Linked DNA regions of Homo sapiens: region 2 is linked to region 1. Evidence: fine-mapped expression QTL. A gene starts in region 1. The other region holds a variant in brackets. All regions are shown on one strand. Distances are between the middles of the regions.

The links.
Region 2: its variant is fine-mapped to the expression of HOTAIRM1 in whole blood (INTERVAL, PIP above 0.99).

The regions. Positions count from the first base shown.
Region 1 is chr7:27,094,742-27,097,241 of GRCh38, forward strand. It overlaps HOTAIRM1 (HOXA transcript antisense RNA, myeloid-specific 1), which reads left to right and starts at 1,353. Exons shown (of 2, transcript NR_038367.1): 1 at 1,353-1,647. It overlaps HOXA1 (homeobox A1), which reads right to left and starts at 1,259. Exons shown (of 2, transcript NM_005522.5): 1 at 520-1,259; 2 at 1-54. The coding sequence starts at 1,171. RefSeq lists enhancers at 1-347, 1,229-1,523, 1,649-2,221 and a silencer at 1,576-1,745.
Region 2 is chr7:26,922,375-26,925,394 of GRCh38, forward strand. It overlaps the pseudogene RPL7AP38. Among named protein-coding and RNA genes, the nearest start is that of SKAP2, 59 kb to the left of the region's middle. The variant T/C (reference allele first, on the strand shown) is at 1,521.

The DNA.
Region 1 (2,500 bases):
AGTTGGTGCGCACCGCGTTGGGTTGACCCAGGTAGCCGTACTCTCCAACTTTCCCTGGGGCAAAGTGGGAAGCCATGAGACGGAAATGTAAAAATTTTTAAATCGACTTGAGATTCCCCACACGCTTCATGGCAACACTCAGGTAAAGAAAAGATCAAGAACTCAGCACAAATCGGGCTGTGGAGGGTGAGTGATGAGGTGTAAAGTGTTAACCTGATGTAAACCATTAGCATGGTCAGACCGGTGATTAATGGAGCCTCAAGATATTAACAGAACACTACCGTCACAATAACCACCCCCACATACTTCCTATTTCCCAAATGTATAAAATCCTTGAAAACACACCAATCCCTGAGACTTCTTTGCCCCAACACCTCTGGGCACCCTCTCCATGCACTACAACACTAGTCTGATACAAAAGCCTTTTAAAAAAAAGATCATTATTAATTTCCTTGGAAATTAAGCATACCAGCTCCTTCCAGAATAATCAAGGAGCATCCACCAACCAGCAGGACTGACCTGTTTTGGGAGGGTTTCTTTTGACTTTCATCCAGTCAAAAGTCTGCGCTGGAGAAGATGTCTCCGATGCGGGGGAGCGACAGGCTTCTTGGTGGCTGGCGTGGAGAGGGGACAAGGAGTTATTATACGTAGCCAGGGCCAGGCTCTGGTGCTCCTGTCCATATGAGTGGTGAATGTATTGAGGCGAGCCCACCGCGCCCCCAGCATAACCCTGGTGGTGGTGGTGATGCTGGACCATGGGAGATGAGAGATTTCCAGAGTAAACAGCGGGAGCGCACTGGGGGTACCCACCACTTACGTCTGCTTCCTGATTTAACGCGTAGGGGCTGTAAGGCGCACTGAAGTTCTGTGAGCCATAGCTTGGACCACAACTTGAGTGGGAGTAGGACACCCCCAGGTTCCCGGAAGTCTGGTAGGTAGCCGGCTGGGGGTGGCGATGGTGGTGGTGGTGGTGGTGGTGGGGCGAACCGATCTGCACCCCCCTGCCCACTAGGAAGCGGTCGTCGCCGCCGCAACTGTTGGCGCTGACCGCGCACGACTGGAAAGTTGTAATCCTATGGTCCGAGGGGTAGGCTCGGGCTGAGCAGGTCCCCGAGTCGCCACTGCTAAGTATGGGGTATTCCAGGAAGGAGTTCATTCTTGCATTGTCCATCTGTCACTGAGTGACCTGGTCCTGCGAAGCCCGGCGTGACTGTGCCAACTTTCTCACTTCCTCCATGGGGCCGGAGAAGAAAAATGATATGAATGTACAGTGCGCAAGAGGGGGGGCGGGAGGGCGGAGGACGCTGGAGGAGGGGCACGTGACGGTGTCAGCCAATGGCTGAGCCTCCTGCAAAAGTTTGCCGGCTTCCGCAGTGATGGATCACCGTTTTAGTGGCATTTAAATCCCCGGCGCTCCGCCGTCTAGGTGACGCGCAGTCGCCCCCCCAGGCAGCCTAGGCGGCGGCAGCTGCTGCGGCGACTGCAAAGGCCGATTTGGAGTGCTGGAGCGAAGAAGAGCAAAAGCTGCGTTCTGCGCGCGCCCGACTCCGCTGCCCGCCCCGCCAGGCCTCCGGGAGGTGGGGGCTGGGAGGCGTCCCCCGCTCCCGCCCCCTCCCCACCGTTCAATGAAAGATGAACTGGCGAGAGGTGAGAAGGGAAGAGGGCTCCCGGCTCTCTCGGGGCGGGAATCAGTGGGCCAGAGCTCGCCGGGTGGCCGCAAGTACGCCGGCCCAGCCCGCAGCGCGCCCAGCCGGAAGGCGGGGAATCCGGCTGACACCGCGCCCCGGGTTCCCAGGCCACCTCCTCTGTTCTGAGGCTGGGCTGGGAGACCGTGGGGCTGTGAGGAGCGCATAGAACCGTGGTGGAGGGCGAGGCTGGGCCACCGGCTCTTCAAGCTCGGAATGGAGGGGGAAGAGCGCAGAGGGCTGGCTGGGAGGAACTCGGGTGGGCGTGAAGGAGACGAGGGCAAGAAAAGAAACTTCCCTTCTTCCAGGAGGGTCTTCGAAACCCTCTCCCCACAGCCCCTCTCGTCATTAGCATGGCAATGAGGAGTTTCTGTAATTCGACTTGGAGGGGCGGATGAGCCCTGGAAACTCAGAGCTCGCCGGAAAAGGCCGGGGGCGGCCGGGCTCTTCTTCCCCACCTTCCCTCTCTCGTCGCTCTCCGCCCCTTTCTCTTTCCCACTCAGTTTTGCACCGGGAGCCCTCCGGGATGCGGAGCTACTCGACCGCCGGATTTTTAGGGGTAGGAGGCGGGGGAGAGAGATGACGCTGGCGGACGTGGCCAGCGCGGGGGCCGGGCGGTGCGCTGCAGGCCATCTGCCGGCGCCCTGAGACCCAGGAGCCTCCGCGCTCCCGCGTGGGCCTCACAGGGCCGGTCCACAGCTCCAACATAGTAGCTGAACTCCCTTCGTTGCGTTCCTCTTTTTCTGGAGGGGAATGTTAGAAGAGAGAGAGAGCTTCCTTTTATAACCTTCCTCATTCTGCTGCACGTCTAGAGT
Region 2 (3,020 bases), 170 kb before region 1:
CAGCTACTCAGTTGCTTCAGCTGGCCCACAACTACAGACCAAACAAGAGAAAGACAAAGCAAGAGAAGAAGCAGAGGCTGTTGGTCCGGGCTGAGAAGAAAGCTTGCAGCAAAGGGGACATCTCCACTAGGAGACCACTTGTCCTTCAAGCAGGAGTTAACACCGTCACCACCTTGGTGGAGAACAAGAAGGCTCAGCTGGTGGTGACTGTACATGATGTGGATCCCATCAAGCTTGTCTTCCTACCTGCCTTGTGTCATAAAATGGGGGTCTCTTCCCCTGCATTATCAAGAGGAAGGCAAGACTGGGACATATAGTCCACAGGAAGACCTGGATCACTGTCACCTTCACACAGGTGAACTTGGAAGACAAAGAAGCTTTGGCTAAGCTAGTGGAAGCTATCAGGACCAACTACAACAACAGATACGATGAGATCTGCCGTCACTGGGGAGGCAATGTCCTGGGTCCCAAATCTGTGGCTCGCATTGCCAAGCTTGAAAAGGCAAAGGCTAAAGAACTTGCCACCAAACTGGGTTAAATGCACACTGTTGAGATTTCTGTACATAAAAATAATTAAAATAATACAAATTTTAAGAAAAAGAAAAAGGGCAGGAGACCACCCATTGCAGTGGGCTATGCACTGGCTGAAGAATCCTTTTTTTTTTTTTTTTTTTTGAGACGGAGTCTTGCTCTGTCACCCAGGCTGGAGTGCAGTGGCATGATCCCAGCTCACTGCAAACTCTACCCCCCGGGTTCAAGTGATTCTTCTGCCTCAGCTGGGATTACAGTGATTCTTCTGCCTCAGCTGGGATTACAGGCACCTGCCACCATGCCCGGCTAATTTTTATATTTTTAGTAGTGACGGAGTTTCACCATGTTGGTCAGGCTGGTCTCGAACTCCTGGCCTCAAGTGATCTGCCCACTTCAGCCTCCCAAAAGAATCCTTCATCTTTAGTTTGCAGTGAGAAAGAAAGAACCACATAAGACTCTGCAATGGAGATACTGGAGTACAAGATTAGCCAGGGACAACTTTCTAGTTTAATGTGCAGAGTTCTGTGAATCTTTTTGTACTAAGTTTTCAGGAGTCTCCCCACCCTGAATTGGGTGTGCAGCCACTTTTTGATCCACTGGCACATAAGGCAGACACTGTGCCTAGTCTAAACAAGAAATGTTTCTCTCTTCTTCCCTGGTAACAAAACTCCAATTTGTATTCAGGTTTTTGAAAGAGATCCCTTGATTTCAGGAAGGGTAGACCCCTACCTCAACAACAAGGAATGAGCTGAAATTGGTCTAAATCAGTCATAGTAATTTTCTTTTCTTTCCTCAGGGATTGGCCAATAAGTGGGCACATGACTGAATCCTGGCCAAGGAGACAAAGGGAAAGTCCACTAGGGAAGGCTCTCTTGCTAATAAAAAGACAAGACTCCACAAGTAGAATGTCTCTACCAGTCTTCCTTCTTGTCCTGAACATGGACATGGTGACTGGAGCCATGGTAGCTATATTCTGGCCAGGAAAATGA[T/C]GAAGAAGCTGGCCCTGAAATCATTGGATTACTGAACTGACTCAGGCAACTGCCTACCTCCAGACTTCTTGTTATGTTAGAAATACAAAGCTCATTTGTTTAGGCCTGTACAGATGACTTTTCTATTTCTTGCAGTCAAATGCATTCTGATACTGTGCTTTGTCTACTTATTTCTTACCTCTGCCCTCTGACAGATGAGGCCCAACCCATTTTTCTTACTTGGCTTTATTTGAACAAAGATTCTAATAAGCACAAGAAACCACTCTGTTGATAACTCCTCTAATATAAAAGGAAAGAGTCATGTTCTGTAATAAGTATTTTGTATCCAATTGGTTTATAAATTGAAAACACAGTTTAAGCAGAAAGATAAAATCAAATACAGTCTCTTGCCTACTTACTTCTCATCTCTCTCTCTCATTTAGTTCAAAGAGACATAAAGTGACACCACTCCATCATTTTTGACAGAGCCACATGTGTAATGCAAAACATATGCTGAAGTTTTGTAATTACTTGGGTTCCTTGAGCAGAAGAGAAATGAGCTCATTGTATGTTCATGGTCTCTTCTCCTTCTGTGTCACCTGCTACCATACCAGGTTGATGCCCTCTCAGACATCAGTTACTACAAGCAATAATTATCATTATTATTCTAATGCCTTACATATGAATGCCGTTTGGCAATATTTCAGAGTGCTTTTAAGTTAGTTCTCTCCCTGAAGGCTCACAACTCTACCACTTACCTGTCATATCACTCCCATAAAAGATTACTGTAGAGACTCTGAGGGAAGGAATCCGCATTTTAGAGGAGAGATGTCATTTTCCTTCTCCCCTAAGTCTAGATCTGCTGCAGGCACAAATGGCCTCCTACTATCTGTTCAACCCCACTCCTCTCCTAAACTAATCATGACCAGCACCAAGAGGGGTGTGGAGTTAGTCTTGCTGTCTATAGCAAAGTAAAAATTCACAAGCCTGCCTATGGCCCTCTGGTCCTTCATCCTAGTGTAGGTATTTTTCCCACTCTGATCAGACCTCTGCTAGGATTTTCTAAGGTGATATTGGAATCTCTTACTGGAAGAAGAGTTCTATTCGAATCTTGGGCCTGATTCACTGCCAAGCCTTTGCTGATCACTTAGGCCCACAGACTAGATTTCTGTTCTAAACTGGATTGATCTTCTACTAAAATGTAAGTAATATGAAGCCAGAGAATGTGCTGTTATTTTACTGCACTATCCCTAGCACATAAAATAGATTCTCATTGGTTCACAGCAAGTGATTGGTAAATATCTGTTGAATGAATGAATGACTCTGATAACCATTCCTCACTAGAGGTTTCTGCTACTGTGTCCTAAACACCAGATTAAACCCCTTGGATACTGACATTAACCTAAGCCCATTCATAGCTGCCTTACCTCTTCAAATGACAAATATGAGCTGTTAGACACCTCTTCACTACAGACCTCCTGTTTCCACTTTCTTTCCTTTTTCCTACTGACCCAGGCAAAT